2 linked regions of the Homo sapiens genome follow. The protein of the gene in region 2 purifies or fractionates together with the protein of the main gene of each other region. This does not show direct contact. Each region holds a gene or a part of one and is shown on either strand. Other genes may lie near its edges. The genes, in order: PDCD10 and DMPK.

Region 1 (3,815 bases), on a different chromosome or scaffold from region 2:
AAATAAAAACAAACACAAAAATCAAATTAATTCTATTAACAAAGCCTGGACCCAGCCACATTATCACTGGAACCAAAATTCAGTGATAATAAGACTTCATTATTGTTATCAGCTATACTTTCCAAAGTAATCTAATAGGAATTTCTTTAAGACAAATTTTTCTTTAAGCATCAAATCATTAAAAATTATTTACAAATTCTAATTAAGGAGGTCCTCCCCAAGAGTTGGTTAACCCAGGATTTCAATTAACTGACAATTCCTTGCTTTCTCTCAATAATATAACACAGAGAATCATACTCATCAGCTGGGCACGGTGGCTCATGCCTGTAATCCCAGCACTTTGGGAGGCCAAGGCAGGTGGATCACTTGAGGTCAGGAGTTCAAGACCAGCCTGGCTAATATGGTGAAACCCCATCTCTACTAAAAATACATAAACTAGCCAGATGCGGTGGTGGGCTTCTGTAGTCCCAGCTACTCAGGAGGCTGAGGCAAGGGAATTGCTTGGACCTGGAAGGCGGAAGTTGCAGTGAGTCGAGATCGTGCCACTGCACTCCAGCCTGGGCAACAGAGCGAGACTCTGTCTCAAAAAAGAAAAAAAAAAAAAAAAAAAAAAAAATCACTCATCAAACTCTTAGAGAAAATGGATTTTTACAAAGACTGTATAGATGGTAGTCTGGCCATTTAACAAAGCGGGGTGGGGTTAACATTTGCTGACACAGTTTACGTACCTTTTTAGGGCTTTCTCATGCCAAAATGCTGTTAGTCACTTCCAAACAAGAGACCAAGATTTAGAGGAGAAAGCTAGGAAAAAGGGAGGCAGAGGAATAGGGTAAGTCAGTGATCCTACTTAGAGTAAAATGAGCTTGATGTCTTAAGGATATACCTACATCTCTCTCCTTGACTTGCAAATTACATCTTCTATAATTCAATGTCTTCCATTTCCAGTTTTCTTAATAAAGTTAAGTGGAACCTAACCTCCCTGAACATACACTACTGTCAGTTTAGTACTTACAGAATTTTACACTTAGGGACATCTAGAAGCAATCTCTTGTTAATGGTAAGTGTATATAGCACTTTACCATTGTATCGTTTATATATATATATATATATATATATATATATATATATATATATATATATGCTTTAAAAATATTAAATGGACAATTTGTGCAGAAAGATACAGGGAAAAAGCATAAGCATTTAAAGTCTCAAAGCATGGGCTCAAATTCTGGTCCTGTCATTCATAAACTATCTTTGTCTCTGAACAAGTCATTTCACCTCTCTATCCTTTGGTTTCTTCTTTAATATGTCTGACAACTCTAGGGTACTTAGCAGCACAAGCTTGTGGATCTTCAACTTGGTGCTGCTGAGACTTCCAGCTCATCTTAAAAGTTAACTGCACCATGTCAAGTGTATGCACTTACATATTTTGTAGAGTACTGTTTTTTTTTTTTTTTTTTTTTTTTGAGACAGAGTTTCACTCTGTCACCCAGGCTGGGGTGCAGTGGCGTACCTCCACCCAGGTTCAAGCGATTCCCCTTCCTCAGCCTCTCGAGTACTGGGATTATAGGCACCTGCCACCACGCCTGGCTATTTTGTATTTTTAGTAGAGATGGGGGTTTCACCATGTTGGTCAGTTTGGTTTCAAACTCCTGACCTCAGGTGATCCACCCGCCTCAGCCTCCCAAAGTGCTGGGATTACAGGCGTGAGCCACTGTGCCTGGCCAGAGTACTGTTTCTTAATACAGAAATTTATAAAATGGGTAAGAAGTAACTTTTTCTACACATAGATAGACAGTATACAGCAGGAGATAGTGCTCAGTTTGGAAGGAAAAAAACCTCAGTTTGAATTTTTGCTCAGCTGGATGCTATCATTTCAGTTTTGTAAATCTCTATTTCTAAACTAGTGAGAAACAGAAATACTGAAGTACTCACTTCCCCAGATTAAGAGTACTAACTGCATATAAAATAGTTACTACAGTGGCTAACACATAATAACCATTCTATTCATATTGTTATTAATATTTTAGCCAAAATTCTAGGAACCTGACATGGAATCGATTGCAACTAGGGTGAGGCAAACCAGATGCCTAGAACACAAAATTTTGCTCTGATTTGCATGACTGAGAGAGTTAGTGCTTCTTCAAAGTTTGTACCCTAGGCATATCTCTTGCCTCACCCTAGTCCTGCCCCTGCATAACATACACAATGAGAGTCAAACACTGATATCACAATGTCATAAAGGCCACCTACATAGCATATTTTCAAAACCTTTTATCTCCCATTTGCCAAAATGGATGCATAAATACACTTAGTTTTGGCTTACATAAAAGAATTTGGCCATCAGGTGCATTTTAAAACTTTTTGCCAAACCAATGTTAAAATTACTTTTCTAAATGTACATAGATAAACTTAACAAAGGAAACCATGGCCCAGAAGCAGGCTGGGTAGCAGGCTGGGTTGCACACTGAAATCAAGATGTGATCAAAGCCCTTGAGATAATTCATAAAAGGTTTATAATCTGTACAAGATAATCAAAAGTTGACAACAAAATTAAAGAGCTCATTACCTCAGAATTAGCTGATGGGAAATGGAAACAGTAACAAAATAGTAACAATTGGCTCCTACGATATTTCAAAGCAACTTGTTCAGGGGGAAAAACATACATCTCTTTAGTTGTGACAATCCTCATTTTTTTTTCCTATGTCTAAATTTTTGGTAAATTCTGATCTGAGTAAAATTTAAATGAAAACACTTGTTGGAAGACAGGAAACAAATCTGTCCCCTTGAATATGTTCATCTTTTGCCCATAAAGTTCTCAACCTAATGGTTCATGAATAATGCCTAGTTGAATAGTTGTTTGGTGTTTAATTGAGGTACATGTCTATTTTCCTTTTTATTAGTATTATTCCTTGTCTTAGTTTCTCCAATACGATGTTAATTAAAGCTTTCCTTTAAAATCCCTTAGAAATTCAACTAAACTTAATTCCTCAGAGTGTTAGGTCCTCTCTGCTTAAAGGTACAATTAAAAGAATCTGTACCACCCTGGATCAGAGCTACTTGCTTTGTATCACTTATAATCTTAGATACCTAGAATTTAACTTAATGACTCCTAATGGCTTAAGATCCTCTAAAACATGCAACAGGTACTTTCATTACTTTACACAATTTCTTTGCACCAAAAACACTGCCACAGGGCACTCAAATGTTGACAGAAACTATTAGCCCCAGACAATAAATAGCCTCTGCCTTATTTAACATTAGGTGCTAATGAGGCCAAGGTTCTATCTTGATGATGACATTTAACTTTACCTTTAGCTCCCAATTGATCTCAAATACAAATACTATTTCTTACAAGAAGAAATTAGGGCTAGGATAGTATCTGTTTTTACTGCATCTACTGTTCCTCCTGTAACCTTCACTTCGCAAAAGTGTGATTTATTTTTTAAGGGAGCATACCAAAAATAAGGTAGAACCTTGGAAATCTCTCAAATTTTGACAGTACTGCATAAATACCGATTTTAATATGGATAAAGACATAGAGAAAGATGTGCAGTTCTCAATAAAAAAAAAAAAAGGATTCCAAATGCTTTGGAATTAAATGAAAAAAAGCCTAGCAACAATCTAAACTCGTATAGGGTGCAGTTGCTGTCTAGAGGCCAGGTCTGACTCATTTAACATTCCCAACTGGCTTCTGTTGTAGTAACCTTATATAAGTCTGAGGAGGCAGCCGGTGTGTAACATCTTAGGGTTTTGTCATTCCATAACTTCAATCTCAGTTGAATTCCAGTCTATCTTGAAGTAAGAGAGAATGA
Region 2 (3,815 bases):
TTTTGAGACAGAGTCTCACTCTGTCACCCAGACTGGAGTGTAGTGGCATGATCTTGGCTCACTGCAAACTCTGCCTCCCAGGTTCAAGCAATTCTCCTGCCTCAGCTTCCCCAGTAACTGGAATTACAGGCACCCGAGACCACACCCAGCTAATTTTCTTGTATTTTTAGTAGAGACGGGGTTTCACCGTGTTGGCCAGCCTAGTCTCAAAACTCCTGATCTCATGACCCACCGGCCTTGGACTCCCAAAGTGCTGGGATTACAGGCATGAGCCACAGCGCCCGGCCGCGGTCCAGCCTATTTTTTTTTTTTTTTTTTTTTTTTTCTGAGACAGAGTCTCGCTCTGTCGCCCAGGCTGGAGTGCAGTGGCACGATCTCGGCTCACTGCAAACTCTGCCTCCCGGGTTCACGCCATTCTCCTGCCTCAGCCTCCTGAGTAGCTGGGACTACAGGCGCCCGCCACCACGCCTGGCTAATTTTTTGTATTTTTAGGAGAGATGGGGTTTCACCGTGTTAGCCAAGATGGTCTCGATCTCCTGACCTCGTGATCCACCCGCCTCGGCCTCCCAAAGTGCTGAGATTACAGGCGTGAGCCACCACGCCCGGCCAGCCCAGCCTATTTTTTAATTTCAGTTTATCTTATTTTTGAGACAGAGTCTCTCTCCGTTGCCCAGGCTGGAGTGCAGTGGCACAATCACAGCTCACTGCAGCCTTGACCTCCTGGGCTCAAGCCCACGTCGGCCACCCTAGTAGCTGAGTATACAGGCATGCGCCACCACGCCCAACCAATTTTTAAAACATTTTTGTAGAGACGGGGGTCTCACCACATTGCCCAGGCTGGTCTCGAACTCCTGGGCTCAAGCAATCCACCCACTTCGGCCTGCCAAATTGCTGGGGTTACAGGCGTGAGCCACCGTGCCTGGCCCCATCATTTTTTCTTGTATCCTGTTGCTTCCCTTCAGGGCACCTGCCACACTCTCCATAATTCTCTAATTCTCTAGACTGCAACTGGATGAGGGCAGGGACCAGAGCTCATCTGGTCCGTGCTGGATCCCCAGTATTGTTCAGCAAAAGGGCACCCAGAGCCGAGCAAGCATGCCATGACAGCTTGTTACACGGTGAAGAGAGACGGCCTAAGGGAGGAGGAGTCCTCTCCTGCTTCTCATCCCTCCAAGTCTCAGCTCAGATAGCTCCCCACTCCAGAAAGCCCTCCAGGACCTTCCTTGCTGAGTCAGGAGTCCCCCACCCCCTGCACTCCATTGTCTCAGCCCTGATCACTCTGGGGCCTTACTGTCTGAAGACTGCTCTGTGTTCCCCCACTGGACTGTAAGTCTAGGTCACTGCTGGGTCCTCAGTAGTAGATGGGCACAGAGCAGGTGCTCTGGGGAATGAGTGATTCAGGACCCCAGAAGGTAGGCACTGTCCTTACTCCAACTTTATGGAGGGAGCATGGGGAGGTTCCCGCAGCCGAGCAGGGGCCACAGGTACCTACCCCGCCCCCGCTCACCATGGCAGTGAGCCCGTCCTCCACCAAGTCGAAGTTGCATGTGTCGGTGGCACCTTCGAAATCCGGTGTAAAGGGGGGCACGCTGTCCCGGAGACCATCCCAGTCGAGGCCAAAGAAGAAGGGATGTGTCCGGAAGTCGCCTGCTCCACCCCGGCCCAGCCGTGTCTCCGGGGGACACAGCAACCGCTGAATGAAGTCTCGAGCCTCCTCAGGGACCCCTTCGTCCACCAGCGGCAGAGAGAGGTGCTCCTGCTCAGAGGGAGAGGAGGCGATAGCCTGGGAGCGCCTACCGGGAGAGGCCAGGTCTCCCTGCGGCCGTGCTCACCTTGTAGTGGACGATCTTGCCATAGGTCTCCGCCGTGGAATCCGCGTAGAAGGGCGTCTGCCCATAGAACATTTCATAGGCGAATACACCCAGCGCCCACCAGTCACACTCGGGCCCGTAGCTGCCTGTCCCAGGCCCACCGCCCACAGCCTGCAGGATCTCGGGGGACAGGTAGTCTGGGGTGCCCACAGCCACCAGCGACCGCACCTGGACCAAAAGGAGCAGAGCGAGGCTTGGGCCCACCCCTCTGGGCCCACCAGCTCTGGGCCCTCCTTCCAACCACTCCCCAAATGCTTAGCCCCTCCCTCTGCCTGGTCTAATACTCCGCCACACAGATGCACACTTAAGCCTGGGTCACACCACCTCTTTTCCCCTCCAAATCCAGTCCCGCTCCCACACTCTGTGCCTTCCATCCCTCATCAGCAGCCCCAGTTGCTCTGTGGCCAGGGCACTGGCTCACCGTTCCATCTGCCCGCAGCTTGAGGCAAGAGCCGAAGTCGGCCAGGCGGATGTGGCCACAGCGGTCCAGCAGGATGTTGTCGGGTTTGATGTCCCTGCACGGAGGAAAAGAGAAGGGTGGGATAAATGAACCTCCCTTCTGTGGTCCCACCAGGCTCCGCCCCTCCGGGCAGTGCCACCTGGGACCCCACTTCCTCGGGTTCCGCCCCTGTAGGGCTTCTACAGTTCTGACCCCTACTCCCAGGCACCCCCCGGTGGGCCCCAACCAAGAAGGTCCCTCTCCAGGCCCTGGCCTCTCTGGGCTCTGACCTTCCAAGAACCCGGCCAGGGAACAAGCTTGCTATCCCCTCGGCCATGCTGCACCCACCTGTGCACGTAGCCAAGCCGGTGCACCGAGTCTATGGCCATGACAATCTCCGCCAGGTAGAAGCGCGCCATCTCGGCCGGAATCCGCTCCCCAAACTTGCTCAGCAGTGTCAGCAGGTCCCCGCCCACGTAATACTCCATGACCAGGTACTGAGAAGGGGTTCGTCATGGGTGGTTGGTAGTCCCCTGAGGCCCTGATCCATCACGGATGGCTGGGACAACCCCTCCCAGAGACACCCCATCCTTGGGCAGAGACCTGCAGCCCCAGCCCAGAGATAACCATAGAGATCTGCCGGGCCAAATCAGAGACCACCTGCGGCCCCCGCCCCCGCCCCTCAAAAAAAAACACAAACAAAAAAACTTTCCTGGGATGTCACTGGGCAGATTCACTCCCCCTGAGATGTTCTGGGAAAGAGAACCCAGAGGCCACCCAACACCCAGAGAATAGGTCCCAGACACTCCTTCCCTAGGCAGTGGCCCCGTTAGAATTCCTGAAGACCTATCCCATTCCAGGTAAGAGACCCCCCGCAACAGAGACATCTTTATAAGAGTCCCCCAGATCACCCCAGAAACGGGCAGTGAAGGACACCATCCCCGTCTCAGATAGGGAAGGCCCCTCATCCACCTGACACACCCTCTTACCGCACACAGACTTTCCCACAGACGTTTCCGGGCAGCACCCCCAATCCTAGAGCTTCCTCTCCCCACCTCCTCGTCCAGTGACAGCACGGGCTCTTGTCCCTCTTCCTAGTCACCCCGGCCCGGAGCTCACCAGGTAGTTCTCATCCTGGAAGGCGAAGTGCAGCTGCGTGATCCACCGCCGGTCCCCATTCACCAACACGTCCCTCTCCTCACGGAAGCACGACACCTGCAGGGCACCCGGAGGAGCTGCAGCCGGAGACGGGGCGCGGATCCTCAAAGCCCCCCACGTCCGCCCAGCCCCTCACCTCGCCCCTCTTCAGCATGTCCCACTTGTTCATGATCTTCATGGCATACACCTGGCCCGTCTGCTTCATCTTCACTACCGCTACCTGAGGTCGAGATAGTGAGACAGAGTGGAGACGGCGGGAAAACAAAAGGGCTCGCCCAGACCCAACTCCACCCGCTTCTGCACCCAGCCGTGGCCCCGCCCCACCTGCCACACCACGCCCATTGGTC

Evidence for each region.
Region 1: the proteins of DMPK (region 2) and PDCD10 purify together in Homo sapiens (affinity purification with mass spectrometry, with the first as the bait; one large-scale study listed by BioGRID). This does not show direct contact.

What each region holds. Positions count from the first base shown.
Region 1 is NC_000003.12:167,724,673-167,728,487, forward strand, and holds part of PDCD10 (programmed cell death protein 10), read right to left. Parts: intron 802-3,815; exon of another isoform or gene 729-801; intron 1-728. UniProt on the Homo sapiens protein: Promotes cell proliferation. Modulates apoptotic pathways. Increases mitogen-activated protein kinase activity and STK26 activity. Important for cell migration, and for normal structure and assembly of the Golgi complex.
Region 2 is NC_000019.10:45,775,835-45,779,649, forward strand, and holds part of DMPK (myotonin-protein kinase), read right to left. Parts: intron 3,786-3,815; exon of another isoform or gene 3,689-3,785; coding exon 3,605-3,688; intron 3,526-3,604; coding exon 3,430-3,525; exon of another isoform or gene 3,300-3,429; intron 2,808-3,299; coding exon 2,659-2,807; intron 2,387-2,658; coding exon 2,293-2,386; intron 2,040-2,292; coding exon 1,833-2,039; intron 1,757-1,832; coding exon 1,493-1,756; intron 1-1,492. UniProt on the Homo sapiens protein: Non-receptor serine/threonine protein kinase which is necessary for the maintenance of skeletal muscle structure and function.